7 linked regions of the Homo sapiens genome follow. The protein of the gene in region 3 interacts with the protein of the main gene of each other region in a biochemical or structural test. Each region holds a gene or a part of one and is shown on either strand. Other genes may lie near its edges. The genes, in order: STAT5A, MAP4K5, CRKL, PXN, WAS, KIT and PTPN11.

Region 1 (3,473 bases), on a different chromosome or scaffold from region 3:
ATATCAAAAAAAAAAATACATAAAAAAAAATAAAGCAGATTGGGCATGTTGCCTAAGCAGAGGGCACGTGGTGGTCACGCCCCATCAACTTGGGTTCCTTTGACTCCTGTAGACTCTGTCCCTACCTGTGGTTGTCATCGTCCACGGCAGCCAGGACCACAATGCCACGGCTACTGTGCTGTGGGACAATGCCTTTGCTGAGCCGGTGAGTCCCCGTGGGAGCCCTACCCCAGCACCCCCAGGCCCTAGGACTCACCTGGGGTCAGCCCCACCCCTTGGGCCCCTGCTGAGTGGTCCTTCCTCACCCCAGGGCCAGCCCAGAGGTGAGGTGAGGCCAGAAGGGCTGGGGTGCTGGGCGCCTGCCTTCCACCATGGCCTTGGCACTCTGGGTTCCAGGTTCCTGGACTGGGGTCTGTGAGGACTGTGAGCTTGGTCTTTGGATCCTGGTCTGGGATCCTCCTTTGGCAGATGGCTTGGGTCCTTGCTCTCTGTTTTCTGTTTCCTGGTCTGCATCTCTGTCCCTGCATGCCCCCACCCCCTGCATCGGTTTTCTTCCCTGCAGGCTGGGAAAAAAAGTGCAAGCTAGTATATAAAAGCCGCCGCATTTCCTGCCCTTGCATTTGTGTCACCTTTCTGGATCTGTCTCAGTCTCCTCTGTCTCTAGGTGTCTGTGTATCTTGTGTGTGTGTGAATATTTCCAACTCCCTCAATCTACCTTTTCCCCTCTCTTGTCTCCCTCTCAGGGCAGGGTGCCATTTGCCGTGCCTGACAAAGTGCTGTGGCCGCAGCTGTGTGAGGCGCTCAACATGAAATTCAAGGCCGAAGTGCAGAGCAACCGGGGCCTGACCAAGGAGAACCTCGTGTTCCTGGCGCAGAAACTGTTCAACAACAGCAGCAGCCACCTGGAGGACTACAGTGGCCTGTCCGTGTCCTGGTCCCAGTTCAACAGGGTGAGGGGCCCAGCTGCCAGCCGCCCACCAGGGCCCACCGGGGTCTGTTGCTCCTCCACCTCACAGACAGGTTACTGCCTGGGGCTAGCACCCCACTCTCCACCCCCAACCACTCTCTCCTACAACCAGGAGAGATGGGGGCCCCTAGCCTCAAGAAATGCAGGCAGGGGCTATAGGAGTTGTGCTTAGTTGTGAAGCCAAGAGCGAGATGACGGAGGGCCCAGGGCTGGGAGTCAGGATCCTTGGGTTCTGGGCCTAGATGTGTTTGCTAATTTTCTTTTTTTTTTTTAGAGACAGAATCTCATTCTGTCACCCAGGCTGGAGTGCAGTGGCGTGATTTCAGCTTACTGTAACCTCTGCCTCCCGGGTTCAAGTGATTCTCGTGCCTCAGCCTCCTGAGTAGCTGGAATTATAGGTGCCTGCCACCATGCTGGGCTAATTTTTGTATTTTTAGTAGAGATGGGGTTTCACCATGTTGGTCAGGCTGGTCTCGAACTCCTGACCTCAGGTGATCCGCCCACCTCGGCCTCCCAAAGTGCTGGGATTACAGGCGTGAGCCACCACGCCTGTGGCTCTGGCTCTCCTTCTGCCTCTCTCCTTGCTAATTTTTGAAGACCCATCCATTCTCTGTGCCTCAGTTTCCCCACCTGTAAAATGAGGGGATGACTTTGGAGGAATGACTTTGGAGGCCCCATCCAGCCTAGATTATTCTTTACACCTCTTACTCCCACCCTTGGGCTGGTCTTGGACCCCTGTGTCTTAGAAGTGAGTTTCCTCTCTGTTTTCCTAGGGTACAAGTTGGGGGCTGTGTCACTTTATGGTCTGCTGGAGTGTGGTGGCAAGCAGGGGTGAAGAACTGGGAGAAGACTGGGTGGGGGCAGGAGGGCCCTGACTTTCCTGGGCCACCTGTGACCTGGGGCACCAGCCCTGACTCGGGGGTTCCTGGGCCCTCAGGAGAACTTGCCGGGCTGGAACTACACCTTCTGGCAGTGGTTTGACGGGGTGATGGAGGTGTTGAAGAAGCACCACAAGCCCCACTGGAATGATGGGTAAGGAACGGGGGCTGCAGGGTCAGGGGCCAGCTGTGGGCGCAGAGAGACTGTGGCTGTGGCCCAGTGGTGACGCTCAATGCTCCGTGCACCCAGGGCCATCCTAGGTTTTGTGAATAAGCAACAGGCCCACGACCTGCTCATCAACAAGCCCGACGGGACCTTCTTGTTGCGCTTTAGTGACTCAGAAATCGGGGGCATCACCATCGCCTGGAAGTTTGACTCCCGTGAGTGCCCGTTTTGCCCACACTCCAGCCCCAAGGCCCGGTCTCTTGTTCCCTTGCCCCGCCACCCCACCCTCCATCGGGCCTGTGTCCTTAGAAGGTACCCAGCGGGAAGCTTAGTATGAGAGGGCTGTGGCTTGGAAATGTATTCTCTTTCTATTGTTTTCCATTTTGGAGAACCTGAAGTCCCCAGCCCCATAGACTCCAGGACGGCTGGGCGAGTCCTCCTGCAGTTTCACGCTCTCCCCTCTCTGCCACGACCCAGCCTTGTTGGTATCTGCTCATCTGGTTTGCTGAGTAGAACATCCCGCATCGGCTTTCTTCCCTACAGGCTGGGGCTGCAGCGCAAGCTACTATATAAAAGCCCAGATTTCTCTTGCAAGCCTGCCCTAAAGCCCCACAACCTTGGTCCTCCTGCTGCTGGTGGATTATGGGAATGAGGCTGTTCTTTTCACAGCGGAACGCAACCTGTGGAACCTGAAACCATTCACCACGCGGGATTTCTCCATCAGGTCCCTGGCTGACCGGCTGGGGGACCTGAGCTATCTCATCTATGTGTTTCCTGACCGCCCCAAGGATGAGGTCTTCTCCAAGTACTACACTCCTGTGCTGGGTGGGTACTGCCCCAGGACCCTGCCGGCTGACTCCCCCGGGCTCTTCCCCAGCCCATAGACAAAGCCTTGGGCTGCGCCGTGGGGACTTCCCCAGGAGGAGCCTAGGGGCCATGTCCCCTGTGGGTTTTGGCCCATGGGGTGGTGGAGAGGATTTCAGGGCTCACAAATGAGGAGAGGGAACGAGAAACCCGTCCCAGCTCTCTTCTCTGCAAAGTGAAAGCTGCATGGATTCTCACTTCTGCACCCTCGGAGGAAGGGGTGGCAGCACTGTAGGGAGTGGCCGGGATCATTCGAGCCCACAGATAGTGCTCCGCTCCCCACCTCACCAGCTGCTCTCCACACCCTGCTCACAAACCTTCCCCCGAGTGGAGTGCAGGCAGCAAAAGGGAGAAGTCTCTCTTCTTCCAGCTGCCCCAAATCCATTGGTTGGGTTTGCTTGTTGATTCTCATTCTTTGACAGGGGTGGGAGCAGGGAGAGGGAAATCAGATGGCCAGAAAAAGAACCAGAAGGAATGGGATTCAAGCCAGGGGTCTCAGTGACCCTCAGGCAGGATTCATCAGCTGGTGTTTATTGGGGGTCCTTGGGAAATCTCATCCCAGCTGAGAACACAAGGTGATGTGAGCAGGAGGGAGACT
Region 2 (3,500 bases), on a different chromosome or scaffold from region 3:
AAAGAAATAAACAAACAAAAAACCCAGACACACTCAAAATACTGAATACTTTCATTGTATCTGTTAACCAGGATGACAAGAGTGGGCAGAAAATAAAAAAAGACTGTGTCTTTTCTTTTGGCTTCATTGCCTTTTCCGTTTTACTTTCTTATCTCAATTTTAAATTATATATGTTTACTTCTAAACAACTTGCATATACTAGGTTGTTAAACATAAGAACTTTTGACAAGCACAATAACAACCTAACATGCAACCTAAAAAGGTGTTTTTTTCCCTTCCTCACTCCCTCCCGTCCTCCTTCTTTCTTTTTAAAGAGACAGGGTCTTGCTCTGTCATTCAGGCTAGAATGCAGTGGCACAGTAATAGCTAACTGCAGCCTCAATCTCCCAGGCTCAAGCAATCCTCCCACATCAGCCTCCTGAGTAGCAGAGACTATAGGTGTATGCCACCATGCCCAGCTAATTTTTCAATTTTTTTTTTTTTTAAGAGATGGGGTCTCACTATGTTTCCCAGGCTGGTCTTGAACTCCTGGACTCAACCGATCTTCCCATCTTGGCCTCCCCAAAAAGTTGTTTCTTAGTAAACTCAAAGAATGAGTTCTGACAAGGTCTAGGAGGCAACTAAAATGCACCTCGTTTTGGTATAGCAGTGTACAGATGTCTACTTAAGATGAAAATAATTCATCTTGTATGTATTAATTTATCATGATGTAATCTTGACTCAAATCTATAAAAATTCATATTGCTCTTTCCTTCTCCCAAATTTGATTTCCATTAATAATTATAATCATTGATTATAAGAATAGTTATTTGCATTAAACTCTAAAGTATTATTTATGAGTTTTTATCTTAGATTCCAAGTTTCTAGGCCTTTTGTGCATCACAGATCTTGGGAATCTGATAATAGATATTGACATGATTCTCCCTAGAAAAATAATATTTATAGCACATTTGTGGTTAAACATTTTTGTTTTACAGTATGGACTATGCTGTGAAACTATTATGTGGCACAAAGATCAATGTGTAAATTCATTGATCAAACAAAAGAATAAATAGGAAGTTAGGAACTTAAGATCTGAAGTCATTGAACCTGAATCTGATTCCTAAGCTCTGTTACTTACTAGTGACACAATCAGTATTATGGAGTTGTTTAAGGGTTAAATGAGATAATTATGTAGTAAAGAACTTAACCTCACCCAAAAAAGAGGTCTGGTCTCTGTCCTGCTTCTGGGAGGTAATTGCTAAGCCTTTGGAATGTCATGCTTGACAGGACTGTCTTTGTCTGGGGGACTCTGGTCACTGGATAATATAACAATAATGATTCAGGGTGGGGACTGGCTGCACTAGATAGTCTTAATGTGAGGGCTGGTCATGCCAGAAATACAAAAAATGTGATTTTGGGTGGGGGCTTTGGGTCATGTAACATCAGATGACCTTTAGTGGGGCTGCATACTGAGATCAGCAAGGTGGTCAATCAATCATGCCAGAAATACAAAAAATGTGATTTTGGGTGGGGGCTTTGGGTCATGTAACATCAGATGACCTTTAGTGGGGCTGCATACTGAGATCAGCAAGGTGGTCAATCAATCATGCCTTTGTGATGAAGCCCCAATAAAAACTCTGGACATCGAGGCTCGAATAAGCTTGTGGTTGGCAGTGGTTGGCAATGGTTGTGTGTTCTGCCACATACCAATGCTGGAAAAGTAACGCCATCCATTAACCATAGGGAGAGGACAACAGAAGCTCCATGTTTGGTATTTTTCCTGGACTCTGCCCTATGTACTTCTTCCCTTGGCTGATTTTAATCTATATTCTGTCCCTGTTCTAAACGGTAATGATTTTAATCTATATTCTTTCCCTGTTCTAAACGGTAATGATTTAAATCTATATTTTTTCCCTGTTCTAAATTGTAATCGTAACTATGAGTATAACTGCTTCCAGTTCCGTGATACCTTCTAGTGAATTTTTTTATTCTGGGGGTAGTTTTGGGAATCCCCTAACTTGCAATTGGTATCATAAGTGAGGGTGTTCTTGTGTGAACTGTTCCCTCTAACTGCATAGTTGGCTCAACTCCTGTAAACATGTTCATAAAACATGGGTGGTAACTGGTAGATGGCAAATATTAAATAAATGAAAGTTAGAATATTAGCAAAGATACAGCCTCAGGGACTATGGTTAAAAAACTCTAGGAACACTATGCTCTGAGAAAACGCTAAGGTTATTATCTCTAAGCATTTCTATGCCATGTCTGTCTATATTCTTGTACTTCAATGGCAGCTTAACTTCTTACTAAACACAAATTTTAAAAACCTACCCTCCTTCCTATTTGATTCCATACGACTCTTCAGATAATTATAAAGATGTTAAAAGTTCTAACCATTCAGTTTGAGAAATACCATTTACTCACCTATGCAACATTTGTGGCAGCCTTTTGTATCAGGAATCTTTGTTGTTAAAGCGAATTTTCTGAAAACGTAAGACGATATAAATGCACTCTACAGTAGTGGTTACAACACAATGATTTGTAAATCAGTTGCATCAGAATCAGACAGAAAGGAGCTTAAAAAACTGTCTTGGATCCTAACTCCACACTATCTCATCTTATAGGACTGAGGAAGGGCCTGACAGTCTGTATTATAAAACTTCCACAGTTGATTCTCATGGTCAAGTTCAGAAAACGTTCAGCTTTTCCAGATATAATACACTTTAGTTTAAACTACCTTTGAAAATTAAGACATAGTTTTTTACTGGGCAAGAAATACGGGCTATTTTTAAAATAAACACTAATTCCCCTCATTCAGTAGAATCAAAATGATATTTTGTACCTTGGTAGTATTCGGTCTGGAAACCTGTGAGTTTGAATATGGGCAGCTAATCCTGGTTTTTTGGCATGTTCAAACAAAGCTATAAGATTGTGAGAGTAGAGCTGAAAGGTTTTTCCTATAAAAGAAAAACATGTTACCTTTTTGAGAATCATTTACAGCAGAGAAATACAATTTTCGAGAAAAAGAAAACGTAATTACCTTCTAAAACGAGAGTCCAGTAATGTTCAAAAAGCCAAGCAAAATAGAAAAACACACACAAAAAAACCCTCAGTTAATACTATTTTGAAAGACAATAGATAAAATGTTTTTAAATTAACAGATAATTTTAATTCAGAATATATAAATTAGGTACTAATAGGTGATCTGGGCAGACTAAACCTTAATGATGCCAGCACACAAAAAGAAATTGTTGTACAAAATCTTATGTTATGGACTGAGTTACAATGATGTACATGTGATTATTTTAATACAAGATGGAAAATTCTATAAAGCTATATTATTATTTCTCTGGGACAGACCTATTTATCAATAACTTAACAAATTACCTTGGATTAAAAATCATTGTGAATGAAGTCTTAAATATAACAGATGGAAATACTTAAAAAAGTAAAACCAACCAATATTATAAGCCATGATACAAGGATAACAGGGCTACAATTCCATATAATAAAAAATA
Region 3 (3,500 bases):
CTCCTGACCTTGTGATCCGTCCACCTCAGCCTCCCAAAGTGCTGGGATTACAGGCGTGAGCCACCACACACTGGCTAACTGCTTTTAACTATACAAATAATAAAATACTCTTGGATGGAGTCTAAGGTGGAACTGACTGTGCTCTTAATAGTGTCTGAAATTTATATGGTACTTACTGGACTGTTCACAGGCTCTCTGTGGCTCTTGAAATAGCAGGGGCTGGGTGTGATGGCTCACACCTGTAATCCCAACACTTTGGGAGGCCAAGGCGAGAGAATTGCTTGAGGCTAGAAGTTCAAGACAAGCCCTGAAAACATAGTGAGACCCCCATCTCTACAGAAAATTTAAAAATTGGCTGTGTGTGATGGCAACTGCCTGTAGTCCCAGCTACTCAGGAGGCTGAAGTGGGAGGATCACTTGAGCTTGGGAAGTGGAGGCTACAGTGAGCTGTGGTTGTGCCACTCTGCACTCCAGCCAGGATGACAGCAAGACCCTGTCTCAAAAAAAAGAGAAAGAAATAGAAGCAGGGATATACTTGAAGGGGTATGTGTGTGTTCATGTCGGTACATTGGATGCTTGGTGCTGCTCGGTAATTTTGAATGCCTCACATGCATTATGCCATTAATTCTCATACACCTGACAGATGCAGGGTTCGTCCCTAAGGCTGATTAGCTCATTATGAGTGAAGAGTTTAGAACCAGACTCCCTGAGTGCAAGTCTAACCTCTTCTTTGGCTCCTCATTTGTAAAATGGGGATAATAACAGCATCTACCTCACAGACTATTAAATAATCCAATCTCTTCAAAGATCGTAAACCATGCCTAGCATAGATAATAAGTATGAGCTCTTTATTATTACTCTTGCTCCTACTACTCTTGCTAGCTATTTATTTTTATTTTTATTTTATTTTATTTTATTTTTTTGAGACGGAGTCTCGCTCTGTCACCCAGGCTGGAGTGCAGTGGTGCAATCTTGGCTCACTGCAAGCTCCGCCTCCCGGGCTCACACCGTTCTCCTGCCTCAGCCTCCTGAGTAAGTGGGACTACAGGCACCCACCACCATGCCCGGCTAATTTTTTGTATTTTTAGTAGAGACGGGGTTTCACCGTGTTAGCCAGGATGGTCTCGATCTCCTGACCTCATGATCCGCCCACCTCAGCCTCCCAAAGTGCTGGGATTACAGGCATGAGCCACTGCGCCGGCCTCTTATTTATTTATGTTTTGAGACAGTCTTGTTCTGTTGCCCAGGCTGGAGTGTAATGATGCAGTCATAGCTCACTGCAGCTTCTAACTCCTGGGCTCAAGTAATGCTCCTGCCTCAGCCTCTTGAGTATCTGGGACCGCAGGTGTGTGCCACTATGCCCGGCTCATTTTTTGTCTGTTTAGTAGAGACAGGGTTTTGATATGTTGGACAGGCAGGTCTCCAAGTCATCTGCCTGCCTTGGCCTCCCAAGGTGCTGGGATTACAGGTCTGAGCCACCACGCCTGGTGGATTTATTATTTTTAATTTGGCAAGTCTGTAAGCCCTTTTTTGTTCCTTTTTTTTCAAGAGGCCAGAGGCAGAGGCCTTTGTCATTTTCTGTGTGTCCAGGGAAGTGTGCAGGATGTAAGCCATAGATTAGGACTGGGAGGAAGAGTGTGTGGTGGTTGTGACAAGGGTCCAAAGGAAGGCAGCTTCCGAACTTACTTGAGATTATAAAAATAAATTTAAACCAGGTATCTCTGTGTAATCAAAAGGTTTCTGTAAAACAGAGATGGAGTGTATGTGTGTGTGTATACTTGTAATTTGAAAAGACATTCAGAATAGTAACTTTTGGGACAGTACAGACTACAAAAATTACAACATGATAGAACCTTCTTAACTACTAAGAATATAGAAAGGAAAATAAAGCCAGGCGTGGTGGCTCACACCTGTAATGACAGCACTTTGGGAGGCTGAGGCGGGTGGATCACATGAGGCCAGCAGGAGTTTGAGACCAGCCTGGCCAACATGCCAAAATCCTGTCTCTACTAAAAATACAAAATTTAGCTGGGTATGGTGTTGCACATCTGTAATCTCAGCTACTCGGGAGGCTGAGGCAGAAAAATCACTTGAACACGGGAGGTAGAGGTTACAGTGAACTGAAATTGCGCTACTGCACTCCAGCCTGGGTGACAGAGCAAGATTCTGTCTCCAAAAAAAAGGCTGGGCTCAGTGGCTCACACCTGTAATCCCAGCACTTTGGGAGGCCGAGGCAGGCAGATCACGAGGTCAGGAGATCAAGACCATCCTGGCTAACAAGGTGAAATTCCGTCTCTACTAAAAATAGAAAAAATTAGCGGGGCGTGGTGGCATGTGCCTGTAGTCCCAGCTACTCAGGAGGCTGAGGCAGGAGAATTGCTTGAACTTGGGATGCAGAGGTTGCAGTGAGCTGAGATCCTGCCACTGCACTCCAGCCTGGGCAACAGAACAAGACTCCATCTCCAAAAAAAATGTAGAGGCCGGGCATGGTGGCTCATGCTTGTAATCCCAGCACGTTGGGAGGCCGAGGTGCGTGGATCGCCCGAGGTCAGGAGTTCAAGACCAGCCTGGCCAACATGGTGAAACCCCTTCTCTACTAAAAATAAAAAAAGTTACCTGGGCGTGGTAGTGGGCGCCTGTAATCCCAGCTACTCAGGAGGCTGAGGCAGGAGCATCACTTGAACCTGGGAGGCAGAGTTTGCAGTGAGCTAAGATCACGCTATTGCACTCCAGCCTGGGCGACAAGAGCAAAACTTGTCTCATAAAAAAGGAAAATAATTTATTATAGAGGAGAGTGGTATATTAAGAAGTTTGACAGGCACTGGCTTAGAGTAAGATTTTTCTCTTAGAGTAATTTTCTTTCTCTCTTAAGGTATCCAAGCCCACCAATGGGATCTGTCTCAGCACCCAACCTGCCTACAGCAGAAGATAACCTGGAATATGTACGGACTCTGTATGATTTTCCTGGGAATGATGCCGAAGACCTGCCCTTTAAAAAGGGTGAGATCCTAGTGATAATAGAGAAGCCTGAAGAACAGTGGTGGAGTGCCCGGAACAAGGATGGCCGGGTTGGGATGATTCCTGTCCCTTATGTCGAAAAGCTTGTGAGATCCTCACCACACGGAAAGCATGGAAATAGGAATTCCAACAGTTATGGGATCCCAGAACCTGCTCATGCATACGCTCAACCTCAGACCACAACTCCTCTACCTGCAGTTTCCGGTTCTCCTGGGGCAGCAATCACCCCTTTGCCATCCACACAGAATGGACCTGTCTTTGCGAAAGCAATCCAGAAAAGAGTACCCTGTGCTTATGACAAGACTGCCTTGGCATTAGAGGTAAAATCTGTTCAGATTAGCTTTTTGGGTCCTTTGACATTTGGTTTTAATTTTTAGTTTTAGTTTAGTTTCTGCTCATTTAAGCTTATATTCATGGAATTAGAGCACTGGATGATTTTGGAAGATACGCACTGTTAGCGTTTCATTTTAAAATTTTTTTAT
Region 4 (3,500 bases), on a different chromosome or scaffold from region 3:
TTCTTTGGTGGTTTTCTTTTGTGCTCCCTCTCCTGAGGCATCTGAGTGTGGCCTGAGCAGCGTTGTGCAAGCTGGGAGTGGGACGGTGACAGCCTCCCCTCCCCCTCCCCCTAGATCCGATCTGTGATCAGGAGGAGCTGGGAGTCTGGCCACGCACACCCCATGTCCCGGGAGCCCTCCCCTCGCCGCCGGCTGGACCCTGCCACCTTGAGCAGGACCCCATCCCAGGAACAGCTCATCGCGGAGCTGCAGGGGCGGCTGGGCATCCAGCCTGAGGCAGAGGAGCCGGCGGAGGCGGCGGGGCCCTCTGCCCAGGACTGGCTGACCGAGGGCGTCATCATCACTGTGCAGCCACGTGGGAAGCGGGCCGGGGGGCAGCTCGTAGAGAAGGTGGCGAGGAGATGCCCATGGCTGGGGCTGGGCCAGAGCCAAGCACCTGGGGTCCGGGTTCTTCCCTGGCCCCAGTGCTGGCCGGAGGGGAGATCTGGGGAGAGGGTGGGGGTTTCTTGCCTCCTGTGACTTTGGAAGACTGGCCCCACTCTTGGTGCAGAGTGGGAAGGCCCAGGGGGAGCCTGGGGAGGTCCCGCCACCCCTGTGGGCTGAGCTGGCGATTTCTTCCTCATCGCTCTCCCTCCTTTCTTCTCCCCAGGTTGTCTTCCCTCCTGGCTCTCCCATTCCCCTGAGAAGAACCATCTCTGTCCTGGCTTCTCCTTCTGTCCCTTTGCTCCAGCATCGCACAGACGCCGCGGCCAGCAGCTCTTCTCCCCTGCCCAGCCTGCTCGCCTCCTCCCCCCTGGGGCCCTCAGCTTATACCTGTGGTTCTTCTGGGGTCCAGAGTGCAGGGGAAGAGCCCCATGATGAGGGGGTGCAGGGCCCTGCCCTTCCCATTCCTGCACCCCACACCATGAGGTCCGTGGGCTGCCAGACTGATGAGGACCCGCTCTTCCCCCCGATGCAGGCAGGCCTTAAAGGAGCCCCTCCCTTTCTGTCCCCTGTCCTAATGCCTGAGCCATCCCCCACTCTGCACACACACACGTGCACACACACATACACAGATACCCTCCATCCCTCCATCTACAAGCCCCAGCACAGTAACCACAGTCCTGCCGTAAACCTTGACCCCGGTCTTCCCCCACTCAGAAGGTCCGCTGCCCTCTTGCTTTTCTGTGGGTCCACCCATGTCTGCTCCTTCCTCGACTGGTCCTCAGTACTGCCCCGGGCTCCCATCGAGGAAAGAAGCCACTCCAGAAGGGAGACCAGAAACCTGTCTCCTCCCTTCCAGCCCCCAGGCCCAGCGCCCGGTGAGGCCTCATCACTGAGCCCGGCCACCTCCCCTTGCCATTTCCTCTGCCTTTGGTCGACTCCCCTCCCTGTCCTTCTTCCTTTCTCCCTAGGCCTCTCTCTCAGGGCTCTTTTTCTCCAGATTTTTTCCCCCAATTTTGGTCCTGCCGGTGGGGGAGAAACCCTCAGATCTCATCCTAGATTCCCTTTTAGTCCAGTGACAAGGTCTTGTATTCTTTCTTAATTTTTAAAAAAGATTTCTTACCCTCATCTCTTCCCCTATCTAAGATCCAGGGCCTGGAGCAAAGAGCGGATGGGGAGCGGTGCTGGGCGGCCGGCTGGCCTCGGGACGGCGGGCGGAGCAGCCCCGGAGGGCAGGACGAGGGAGGGGTCAGTGCCAAGGCTGGGCTGGGTGTCCTGCGTGTCGTGCTCTCCCTGGGCTTGGCCATGCCTGCTGGGTGCCCTCAGCCTTTCCGACCCTGGTGGGCCCCTCCGACCACCAGGAGTCCTGCTGACGTCACTCCCACTTTAGGGCTCCTGGCCCCTGGAGGAGGTTGTACTTCTTGTCTCCATCAGCTCATCTGTCCAGGAGGGAGAAAAGTACCCCCATCCCTGTGCTGCCAGACACCGTACCCCGAGCCTCAGGAGTCCTGACCAGCCCCCTCCGTGTCCACAGTTCATGGCCCAGGGGAAGACAGGGAGCAGCTCACCCCCTGGGGGGCCCCCGAAGCCCGGGAGCCAGCTGGACAGCATGCTGGGGAGCCTGCAGTCTGACCTGAACAAGCTGGGGGTCGCCACAGTCGCCAAAGGAGTCTGCGGGGCCTGCAAGAAGCCCATCGCCGGGCAGGTGATGAGGGGGAGTGGGCAGGGGTGTGGCCAGTGGACTCCTGCAGGGGTGGGGGTGCTCCGGGGCTGGCCTTGGCCCTGGACCGCATTCCATCTCCTCCTCAGGTTGTGACCGCCATGGGGAAGACGTGGCACCCCGAGCACTTCGTCTGCACCCACTGCCAGGAGGAGATCGGATCCCGGAACTTCTTCGAGCGGGATGGACAGCCCTACTGTGAAAAGGACTACCACAACCTCTTCTCCCCGCGCTGCTACTACTGCAACGGCCCCATCCTGGATGTGAGTTCCTCATCCGGCACCGCGCCCGCTTCCGCTCATTCCAGCTTCACCGCAGCCCTCTGAGGATGCAGGGGGTGCCGTGGGAGGCTCAGAGAGGTCACATGCCCGAGGCTCACAGGGCTAGGGAACAGTGGGGCCGGATTCACAGCCACACCTGAACCACAGCCTGTCCCGATGTGCATCGGGCAGCCCCACCTCCCTTCACCTCCCATCTCGATTCCTTTCTGTGGAGACTCCCAGGACTCAGGAGCCCTGAGGAGATAAATGGAGTTGGATGCCAGCGGCCTCACTCTCCCTCTCTGTGAACTTAGGAAATGCCTGGCCTCTCTGAGCCTATGTTTCTTCACTTATAAAATGGGAGTCATAGAACTTGTGCCCTCTACTTGGGGTGAGGAGTAGAGGAGAGGGTATGTGTCTGGCTTGTCCCATCCTGAGTAACTCTGAATTCTTAGAGGCATTCACAGCACAATTAGGAGAGACCCCCATCTTGGGAGTGTTTTGCTCTGTCTATGGCTATGAGCTGCGGGTGGAAGGACGGCCTTGCTGGGCGTCTCAGTTGTGAGATCTGCCCAGAGCTCAGCCTTGATCCCACATTTTGCTTTCACAGAAAGTGGTGACAGCCCTTGACCGGACGTGGCACCCTGAACACTTCTTCTGTGCACAGTGTGGAGCCTTCTTTGGTCCCGAAGGTACGGGCTGGACCGGCGGACTGACCCACCGCCTCTTAGGAGGGCCGGGGAGGTGGGGGTGGGAGACGCTGCTGAGGTTGGAGTCAGAGTGGCTCCACTTCTGGAAGCCGGAATGAACTGTGCCTCCAAAACCCCCGCTCCCCAGGGTTCCACGAGAAGGACGGCAAGGCCTACTGTCGCAAGGACTACTTCGACATGTTCGCACCCAAGTGTGGCGGCTGCGCCCGGGCCATCCTGGAGAACTATATCTCAGCCCTCAACACGCTGTGGCATCCTGAGTGCTTTGTGTGCCGGGTAAGGAGCCCCTGACCACATCTGGAGGGGCGAGGAGCAGGCAGTGGGGAGAGAGGGGTCTTCCTCATTGTGCTGTCTGGATCCAACTCAGAGGCCTCATTTGGGGTTATT
Region 5 (2,564 bases), on a different chromosome or scaffold from region 3:
TCTCCCTGGGGCTGGCGACAGTGGACATCCAGAACCCTGACATCACGAGTTCACGATACCGTGGGCTCCCAGCACCTGGACCTAGCCCAGCTGATAAGAAACGCTCAGGGAAGAAGAAGATCAGCAAAGCTGATATTGGTGCACCCAGTGGATTCAAGTGAGAGCCACTCCCCAGTGGACCCACAGATTCCTGGGGGCAGAGGGGCACATGAACAAGTGGACAGCTGAGTGAATGGAAGGATGGGCAGATGGGCAGATGGCTGGGTGGCTGAGTGGGTAAATGGGTGGTTGGATAGGTAGGTGCAGGGCTGGGTCTAGGGAGAGGTAAATAAGGCACCAAGGGTACAAAATTTAAGGAGGCACTCACTCTCAGAGGCATGCAACTGTAATTCCTGACTCTCAGAGTGAGTGACTCACTTAAATTTTGCACCCTAGGCACCTTACTTGCCTCACCCTGGGCCCACTCTGGGTGGGCTGTTAGGAGAGCAGGTGGGTGGGCAGGTGAACAAATGGATAGATAGATGAGGTAGATGATGGATGAGAAGGGCTGGTGGGTAGGTGGGTGAGTGGATGGGTGGATGGATGGATAAATGAATGGATGAATGAATGGGTTGAAGAATGAATGGATAAGTGGTTGGATGGACAAGTTTATGGGTGGATGGGTTGATGGGAGGTGCGTGGATAGATAGATGGGTGAGTGGATAGGTGTGTGGACAGATTGATATGCAGGCTGATTGGCTCACAGACAAGGTGGATGGGGATGGACAGGTGGACAGATACGTGGATGAATGGACAGTTCAATGGATAAGTGAACAGAAGTGTGTGGTTGCATGGGTAGAAAAATGAGTGGATGGATAGATGGAAAGGTGGGCACATGGGTAGGTGGATGGGTGGATGGACAAGTGTGTGTGAGGACAGACTGGTGGACAAATGGGTGAACAGACATATGTGGGCAGATAGTTGCAGAGACAGATGTATGGACAGATCAGTAGTCCAACAGATGAATGTGAATGAATAGGTGGACAAATGCATGGGATAGATGGGGAAAGAGGGATGGGTGGATGGATCAGCACCACAAACTATGGAGCCCTTCTAATTCCATAACTCCTGCCTATACTCATTCACTCATTCAGTCTCATTCATTAATTCTGGCCCCTCAGAGTCTCTTTGGGCAGGAGAGGGCAAGAGGGTTTCACTATGAAGGGAGGGAAGGAAGGGCAGTGAGGATTCACTGGAGTCTCTTCACCTCTCCCAGGCATGTCAGCCACGTGGGGTGGGACCCCCAGAATGGATTTGACGTGAGTAACTTCAGAGTCTCTTGGACTCCACTAAACTTCCACCCACCCTTCCAAAGACCACTGCTGAGACCCCACCCCCAGATCGTGCCCTTCCCACACCCCTCTCAGATCCCTTGCTGGGATGGACCCAACGACAATCCATGTCGCTTGTCTCCTCGCCTTATTCCTCTACTCCTGCCCCTGGCCTTTTTCCTCCTGGGCAGGTGAACAACCTCGACCCAGATCTGCGGAGTCTGTTCTCCAGGGCAGGAATCAGCGAGGCCCAGCTCACCGACGCCGAGACCTCTAAACTTATCTACGACTTCATTGAGGACCAGGGTGGGCTGGAGGCTGTGCGGCAGGAGATGAGGCGCCAGGGTGAGACCCTGCTTCCATACGCTCCCTTCTCTAGCCCAAGCAGCTCATAGCTAAGATACGCACTAAGTCACTCAGTCCTTATGGGAGCACCTATACTGCTTCAGTCAGGAGTTGGTCAGTGGGGGTACCCATTTTACAAATGAGCAAAACTGAGGCTCAGAAGAAATCAATGAGAGTTACAGCTATGTGTTATACCCCCTCCACAGAGCCACTTCCGCCGCCCCCACCGCCATCTCGAGGAGGGAACCAGCTCCCCCGGCCCCCTATTGTGGGGGGTAACAAGGGTCGTTCTGGTCCACTGCCCCCTGTACCTTTGGGGATTGCCCCACCCCCACCAACACCCCGGGGACCCCCACCCCCAGGCCGAGGGGGCCCTCCACCACCACCCCCTCCAGCTACTGGACGTTCTGGACCACTGCCCCCTCCACCCCCTGGAGCTGGTGGGCCACCCATGCCACCACCACCGCCACCACCGCCACCGCCGCCCAGCTCCGGGAATGGACCAGCCCCTCCCCCACTCCCTCCTGCTCTGGTGCCTGCCGGGGGCCTGGCCCCTGGTGGGGGTCGGGGAGCGCTTTTGGATCAAATCCGGCAGGGAATTCAGCTGAACAAGGTGAGGACAGGCAGGATGGAGGATTGGGGGTCTAGGACTCTGGGGTGTCCCGTCTAAGTCAGGATACTGGGGGGCTGAGGCCAGGACTGAGGAGAGTGCCAGGCCTTAGGGATTCAGTGATAGGGTTGAAAGGTTGGTGGGAAGCCTTGAAGGGGACTGGAGTGTGTGGGAGAGAAAATATTGATGGAGGGGCGGGGAGAAATGCTCCTTTCCCAGGCCCTAAGCCCTCTGTGCTGATCCCTGCCTGCTGCAGACCCCTGGGGCCCCAGAGAGCTCAGCGCTGCAGCCACCACCTC
Region 6 (3,500 bases), on a different chromosome or scaffold from region 3:
AGAAGAGCTTCCAAGACGTGTTATGCAGGAGGCAGAGATCGTTAACATATAGTGACTGATGGAGGAAGGTTTAAAAAAAAATCAAGTTGGTTCAGATAAACACCAATAATTTGGATGATTTTCTGAACCATCTGGACCTCTTCAATCTGCAACATTTGGCTGGAGACTCTTCAAGATTTCTAGTACTTCCTGCTTCTGATTAGCATAGAAACACCATGACAACAATCTCCTTCAGAGTGTGCTGGTGGTTCCAATCCCATATGGGATCCCAAAGCACAAAGAACATCACACAGGATTGAACAATTTAGGCCATTATATCAGAAAGTTAAAGGATATATATAGGGCCAAGGTTTCGGAAAGAAGCAAAATGGCTCATTTCTTCATATAATGAGCACATGCCCAGGAGAAACTAACAAAAAGTGGTTTTGTACAGTTTCTACTACCACTTTAAACTACTCAAGTTTATAGGATTAAAAAAAAATAAAAAGTTTCACCTGGGGTTTTAAACTTTAGCCAGAGGTACAGAAAATGGCTTTAAGGGGTAATTGCCCATCAATAATATTTACTGAGGTCTCCTTGAGGACCTGGTGTTAAGAGTTCAGGAGGCAATGTCTTGCCATTGCAAGATGCAGTGGATATAAAGTGCATGAAAAGGATAGGAGAAATCTACCACACAACTGCAGCAATATACAGTATAGGGGACTGGGCAAAATAACCATGACTTCTGTTGGACTGGGTACATCTAGGAAGTCTTCTCAAATGGTGGCCCTTAAGAGCATTTCCAAAGAAAGAATAGGCAAGATATGAGAAGAATTCTTTTCTGGTTGTAAGTCAAACTCAAAGCTCTTTATACATGATTCAAATTCAGAATGGCATCAATGATGAAAGAGATGAGAATAATGTCCAGAATTTTTAAAAAATGTGCTGGAGTAGTTATGTCTTTTAATAGCATGATGAAATAAAAAGGGCAAGAGGCAAGGTATACAGGAATAATCCAGAGGTCGATGGCAAGAAGCCTACATGTGGAGATATGTTCAGAGCTCTTTGTCATTCTGCTAAAGGTTTTAAAGGGACTTTACTGTGGCAACTTGAGAGGCTTTAGCATTTTCCCTATAAACAGTATCTCACTGGAAACATGCATGTAGTACCAAGCTCAATAGTATAAATGGAAATACATGCAGGACAGAACCGTAAGAGAAACAGATATAGAATGCATTCAGTTGCATGGAACTAAAGTGTAGAAGAAAACTGAAAATACATTTTTAAAAAATCAGCAAAAATCTAGGTTTGAATCTTTAAAAACACAATTTAACTTTCTAAACTGTTAATCACATTTAAATGATTTAATAATTTTGATTTCATACCTCAGAGTACCTCAGTTCATTTTTTAAAGAATCAGCCTTGATTGCAAACCCTTATGACCCCATGAACTGCCTGTCAACAGCTAACTATTTATGTAAATCAGTCTTACCAGGAAGACTCCTTTGAATGCAGAAGATTCTTATAAAGTGCAGCTTCTGCATGATCTTCCTGCTTTGAACAAATAAATGAATCACGTTTTCTTCTCAAAAAATTCAAAAGATCACCATAGCAACAATATTCTGTAATGACCAGGGTGGGCCCTAAAAGCACATAAGAAAAGGTTAGAAAGAAGGTGAGATATATAGATTAATTCTGCCTCCCATAAAAATACCCAAGGGTGGTCATGGCCATTAATATTCAGCTTCAGTGGATCAGACTACTTAGTCCCAATACAATCCCATATATTAACACTGCTTATCAAAAAAGCAGCCTTATGTGGAGTAACATAAAACAAGCAAGCCTCTTTTAACCTGAATTTCTAAGTGACATTAGTATTTGGAGCCAAGCATGACTGCTGGTTTTACAGAGAGAAGTTACTGCTTTCAAAGATTCTACTATTATCAAGCTTCCTACGTGAATCCTCTGGTTCACTTCTGTTTACAGCAGGGCTTCACACACTCTCTGTAACGTTATTATGGAAATAATGAAGGCACAAACTGTGGCATAGTGGGAAAATCAGCCACAAGGAGCAGCCAGCTGGGACAAGACTGGAAAGTGAGTGAAAACCTAAAATGACCTGTGTTCTGAGCGCTACTAGTTGAAAAATTTTTTGGTGCTATGAATGTTTAAACTGTAGTTTAGAAGTAACAGGCAACTAATTAACTTGGGTAAGAAATTTTCTCATGAACAATTCATGATGTGGTGAAGCAACATTTATGGGGATTATTGGAAGACATGATATAAGGCTGTCAACTTTATCGTGGATCTCCAGAAACAGCTCATTTTACACATCTTTGTTTCTTTCAACTGAAATACTTTCTGCAAACATCACAGACATCCTTGATGGGAACTTCAACTAAGGCTTCAAATTGGAAACTTATTTTTAGAGAAGTGAAATGTTTGCCTCATTTGGTGTATATTTGAGAACCAGTAGGCTTAGGCGCCTGTTTTAAATTGTAGTATGCAAATTAATATTAACCCTTTCAGTGGCTACATATGATCAAGAAATGTATAAAGCTTACAAGATAACAGAAGCCTTCTGGTCGGGATGAGATATTCAAGAGGCTGATGTCGTTGATGTTACAAATACGACAATAACTAGGGTATGTCCTGGGCTGTTCTACCCCATAATGATAAAATTAAAATCTGCATTCTTAAGAACAATGAGGAAAACAAAATCTAGCAAGAGAGAACAACAGTCTGGGTAAAAAAATCTTCCAAGCAGTTTATAATCTAGCATTGCCAAAATCATATTAAAATGTCATGTTTTGATAACCTGACAGACAATAAAAGGCAGCTTGGACACGGCTTTACCTCCAATGGTGCAGGCTCCAAGTAGATTCACAATATTCATGTGATTACCAAGGTAACTCAGGACTTTGAGTTCAGACATGAGGGCTTCCCGTTCTGTCAAATGGGCACTCGCTAAAATTGGAAACATGCATTTTAGCAAAAAGCACAACTGGCAAACTGATGTCAAGCGCATGCAGTACCATACAGGAACTTACGCTTGAGCATCTTTACAGCGACAGTCATGGCCGCATCTGACTTAATTAAGCCATAAGCAGTTGCCTCAACAACCTTCCCGAAAGCTCCAGCACCCAGGGTTTTCCCTGTAGGAAGGAAGACAACAAGGTAAGTGGTGATGGTGCTGGTGGTGGAATTGAAGGACCATTTGTGCAGTTTCAAAATCAATAAAGGAATTAAAAACAATGTTGTCCAGAGACATTTTCCTACGATGTTCTCTATGGCAAACCTATCAAAAGGGGCGCAATTTCACAGAAAACTCATTGTTTCAGGTGGAACAAAACAAAGGAAGCCACTGGAGTTCCTTAAAGTCACTGTTATGTGTACCCAAAAAGGTGACATGGAAAGCCCCTGTTTCATACTGACCAAAACTCAGCCTGTTTCTGGGAAACTCCCATTTGTGATCATAAGGAAGTTGTGTTGGGTCTATGTAAACATAATTGTTTCCATTT
Region 7 (3,500 bases), on a different chromosome or scaffold from region 3:
CCCAGCTTCTTGGGAGGCTGAGGTAGGAGAATCACTTGAACCTGGATTTATAATGTATGTAAATCCACCGCGAAGGTTGCGGTGAACCGAGATCACGTCATTGCACTCCAGCCTGGGCAATAAGAGCGAAACTCCATCTCAAAAAAAAAAAAAAAAGATATGCAAGGTAAAGATACTAATAAAGACCTTTGTGTTGAGTTGGTTGACATGTGGTTATTTCACCCATCGTATTTCTTATAGGGAATAGGTAAATTCGTTCCTTGGGTTTCTTTCAACACTTAGGTAAAATCCGACGTGGAAGATGAGATCTGATTTTACTGGTGTAACTCTTTATTTGTCCCCTTGCCTCCCTTTCCAATGGACTATTTTAGAAGAAATGGAGCTGTCACCCACATCAAGATTCAGAACACTGGTGATTACTATGACCTGTATGGAGGGGAGAAATTTGCCACTTTGGCTGAGTTGGTCCAGTATTACATGGAACATCACGGGCAATTAAAAGAGAAGAATGGAGATGTCATTGAGCTTAAATATCCTCTGAACTGTGCAGATCCTACCTCTGAAAGGTCAGTAACATTTTAGTGACCACAAAGTCTGCTGCTCCCTTGTGCCCTGAGTGTCAGAAATGCATGACGGTCTGTGTATGACTCTCTGACTCCAAAGGCTTGTGACTGTTTTTTGAGCTGTAATCTTTAAAGAATTACTAAAGTGAGACTAATAGCATCAAATTATTTTCAGAGTACCTTTTTCCTGCAAAAGTTTTAATCAGTGTTACTTACACTCATCCTATAGGGGTTGCATACCATTCCTGCATATACTTGGTACGTGTATTAGTTTTAAGACTTATTGAACTTCAGCAGATAATCTTTGAGAGTTATTAGAGGAAAACAAATGATAATGGAGACACCAAAATAGCAGCAGTTTTCTATGGTGGCTCTCGACCAGTTATTCAGCAATGTCACCAACAGATGTCAGTTTAAGCTCAGAAGTGGAAAAGCAGAGAGCTCAGAGGGTCAGCTTTTTCATCAGTTCTTTTAATGTTATCACCACAATTATGTGAGAATGACCTTGCTTAGAGAAAATTATGTTATTTTCGAGATCTTTCCCCCTGTGTTGGAACTAGGCTGATGAAAGCATGGGCTTGACTTATTTATTGATTGTATTCGTTTTGTACATTCCCAATCTCCTCTCTGACTTGGTGCAAATTCAGGATCTCTTAGTTAGTTTGTATATTTTGTGTCTTCAGGTATGATTTTTTCAGCTTATACCTTTATGTCAGTGCTATTATGTGCTGATAATTTGTTTCTCTAGCTACCACCGTAGCTTCAGGCAAAAGGCTGTCAGCCAACTCTGTACAGTTTATTTCTAAATTTTACTGTTTTCAGTTGAGTATGGATGAAGAATAACTCAAAGTTTATTCTTTTGATGATGAGCCCTTAACACCACCTGCCATGATAGTACTTGCTTTCTGACCAAGATCCTGAGGGAAAAAGCCACTTTATTATTAGAACTATGTTAAGATGCTTCCCAAAAAACATGGAGCAGTATTGTCTCAAAGTCTGTCCTTGGATGGCTTTGGATGCCTACATCAGGACTGTCTGATGTGCTGGTTAAAATGCAGATTCCTGGGCCTCATTCAGACTTACATGTATTGATATTGCTGGTTGTGGAGCCTGGGAATTCATATTTTTAGCAAAATCCCTCATTTTTACTCCAAGTCTTATGTGCATTATACAGTTTGAGATGATCACCCAGGATATAGTCCAAAGACACTGGAGGCTGTTGAAGTATAGGTTGTATATATGGAAAAGGTTGGAATGTTTGAATTAATTTATAATGAAGATCCTTTTTAATTGAGTGTTCACATGCCAAGGCAAGGACAAACATTCAAAATGATTTTCTGTCTCTGTTACAACTTTTTCTTTCTTTTTTTTAATTTATTTATTTGAGATGGAGTCTCACTCTGTCACCCAGGCTGGAGTCAAGTGACGCGATCTCGGCTCACTACAACCTCCGCCTCCCAGATTCAAGTAATTCTCTTGCCTCAGCCTCCCGAGTAGCTGGGACTACAGGCATGTGCCACCATGCCCAGTTAATTTTTGTATTTTTAGTAGAGACAGGGTTTTGTCATGTTTGCCAGGCTGGTCTCAAACTCCTGAACTCAGGTGATCCGCCCACCTTGACCTCTCAAAGTGCTGGGATTATAGGCGTGAGCCACCGTGCCTGTCTCTATTACAACTTTTTATTACAACTTCTTTATTTTGACTTTATTTTTACAAATTATTTATTTATTTTTTTTGAGATGGAGTTTCGCTCGTCACCCAGGCTGGAGTGCAATGGTGCGATCTCAGCTCACTGCAACCTCCGCCTCCCAGGTTCAAGTGATTCTCCTGCCTCAGCCTCCTGAGTAGCTGGGATTACAGGCACTTGCCACCACACCCGGCCAATTTTGTATTTTTAGCAGAGACAGGGTTTCACCATGTTGGTCAGGCTGGTCTCGAATTCTTGACCTCAGGTGATCCACCTGCCTCGGCCTCCCAAAGTGTTGGGATTACAGGCATGAGCCACCACGTCCGGCCGACTTTTATTTTTTTTTCTTGAGACAGGGTCTTGCTCTGTCACCCAAGCTGGAGTGCGGTGGCATGATCATAGCGCACTGCAGCCTCGACCTCCTGGACTCAAGTGATCCTCCTGCCTCGGCCTTGTGTATAGCTGGGATTACAGGCAGTTGCCACCATGCCAGGCTAATTTTTAATTGTTTTGTGAAGATGGGGATTTCACTGTGTTGCCCAGACTGGTCTTGAACTCCTGGCCTCAAGTGATCTTCCTGCCTTGGCCTTCCAAAGTGTTGGGATTACAGGCATAAGCCACTATGCATGGCCTGTAACTTCTTTAAATGGCTATAATTAAACAGTTGGTCCTTTTAAGATTGGGCAATGGACGAATGGCAAATTGCATTTTTAAAAGAGGAGGGATTTAAAAAAAAACAGGAAAGATTGGGGCATTTGTCTCTAAAGGACTGTGGACTCATTTAAGAAGTTTAGTGGTCATTCTTACCATCTTTGTGGTTTTTCCTGCCTGCATGGGATGCAGATTTTCTGTCTCAGGTGGGATTGATCAATCCCTTGGAGGAATGTGTCTACTTTTTAATTGTGTTTAGGAGAGCTGACTGTATACAGTAGTTTTGTGAAAGAACAACATGAACCCATAGTAGAGCTAAATTCTTTTTTATTTTTTAAAAACTTTAGGTGGTTTCATGGACATCTCTCTGGGAAAGAAGCAGAGAAATTATTAACTGAAAAAGGAAAACATGGTAGTTTTCTTGTACGAGAGAGCCAGAGCCACCCTGGAGATTTTGTTCTTTCTGTGCGCACTGGTGATGACAAAGGGGAGAGCAATGACGGCAAGTCTAAAGTGACCCATGTTATGATTCGCTGTCAGGTAAATCTCCAGTTGAAAAATGGGTCTGGCAAGATGTTACCTTTGGGTGATTTTTCTGC

Evidence for each region.
Region 1: the proteins of CRKL (region 3) and STAT5A form a complex in vitro, tested with the Homo sapiens proteins (one study listed by BioGRID).
Region 2: the proteins of CRKL (region 3) and MAP4K5 form a complex in vitro, tested with the Homo sapiens proteins (one study listed by BioGRID).
Region 4: the proteins of CRKL (region 3) and PXN form a complex in vitro, tested with the Homo sapiens proteins (one study listed by BioGRID).
Region 5: the proteins of CRKL (region 3) and WAS form a complex in vitro, tested with the Homo sapiens proteins (one study listed by BioGRID).
Region 6: the proteins of CRKL (region 3) and KIT form a complex in vitro, tested with the Homo sapiens proteins (one study listed by BioGRID).
Region 7: the proteins of CRKL (region 3) and PTPN11 form a complex in vitro, tested with the Homo sapiens proteins (one study listed by BioGRID).

What each region holds. Positions count from the first base shown.
Region 1 is NC_000017.11:42,305,498-42,308,970, forward strand, and holds part of STAT5A (signal transducer and activator of transcription 5A), read left to right. Parts: intron 1-112; coding exon 113-205; intron 206-743; coding exon 744-950; intron 951-1,904; coding exon 1,905-1,999; intron 2,000-2,095; coding exon 2,096-2,226; intron 2,227-2,680; coding exon 2,681-2,836; intron 2,837-3,473. UniProt on the Homo sapiens protein: Carries out a dual function: signal transduction and activation of transcription. Mediates cellular responses to the cytokine KITLG/SCF and other growth factors. Mediates cellular responses to ERBB4.
Region 2 is NC_000014.9:50,435,070-50,438,569, forward strand, and holds part of MAP4K5 (mitogen-activated protein kinase kinase kinase kinase 5), read right to left. Parts: intron 3,026-3,500; coding exon 3,023-3,025; intron 2,940-3,022; coding exon 2,825-2,939; intron 2,466-2,824; coding exon 2,407-2,465; intron 1-2,406. UniProt on the Homo sapiens protein: May play a role in the response to environmental stress. Appears to act upstream of the JUN N-terminal pathway.
Region 3 is NC_000022.11:20,930,907-20,934,406, forward strand, and holds part of CRKL (crk-like protein), read left to right. Parts: intron 1-2,872; coding exon 2,873-3,338; intron 3,339-3,500. UniProt on the Homo sapiens protein: May mediate the transduction of intracellular signals.
Region 4 is NC_000012.12:120,213,731-120,217,230, reverse strand, and holds part of PXN (paxillin), read left to right. Parts: intron 1-114; coding exon 115-390; intron 391-649; coding exon 650-958; coding exon of another isoform or gene 959-1,301; intron 1,302-1,569; coding exon 1,570-1,671; intron 1,672-1,813; coding exon of another isoform or gene 1,814-1,957; coding exon 1,958-2,128; intron 2,129-2,232; coding exon 2,233-2,406; intron 2,407-3,013; coding exon 3,014-3,095; intron 3,096-3,240; coding exon 3,241-3,389; intron 3,390-3,500. UniProt on the Homo sapiens protein: Cytoskeletal protein involved in actin-membrane attachment at sites of cell adhesion to the extracellular matrix (focal adhesion). Recruits other proteins such as TRIM15 to focal adhesion.
Region 5 is NC_000023.11:48,686,799-48,689,362, forward strand, and holds part of WAS (actin nucleation-promoting factor WAS), read left to right. Parts: coding exon 1-157; intron 158-1,255; coding exon 1,256-1,298; intron 1,299-1,501; coding exon 1,502-1,655; intron 1,656-1,861; coding exon 1,862-2,268; intron 2,269-2,521; coding exon 2,522-2,564. UniProt on the Homo sapiens protein: Effector protein for Rho-type GTPases that regulates actin filament reorganization via its interaction with the Arp2/3 complex. Important for efficient actin polymerization. Possible regulator of lymphocyte and platelet function.
Region 6 is NC_000004.12:54,727,457-54,730,956, reverse strand, and holds part of KIT (mast/stem cell growth factor receptor Kit isoform 1 precursor), read right to left. Parts: coding exon 3,415-3,500; intron 3,135-3,414; coding exon 3,030-3,134; intron 2,947-3,029; coding exon 2,836-2,946; intron 1,623-2,835; coding exon 1,472-1,622; intron 1-1,471. UniProt on the Homo sapiens protein: Tyrosine-protein kinase that acts as a cell-surface receptor for the cytokine KITLG/SCF and plays an essential role in the regulation of cell survival and proliferation, hematopoiesis, stem cell maintenance, gametogenesis, mast cell development, migration and function, and in melanogenesis.
Region 7 is NC_000012.12:112,449,947-112,453,446, forward strand, and holds part of PTPN11 (tyrosine-protein phosphatase non-receptor type 11), read left to right. Parts: intron 1-371; coding exon 372-566; intron 567-3,248; coding exon 3,249-3,441; intron 3,442-3,500. UniProt on the Homo sapiens protein: Acts downstream of various receptor and cytoplasmic protein tyrosine kinases to participate in the signal transduction from the cell surface to the nucleus. Positively regulates MAPK signal transduction pathway. Dephosphorylates GAB1, ARHGAP35 and EGFR.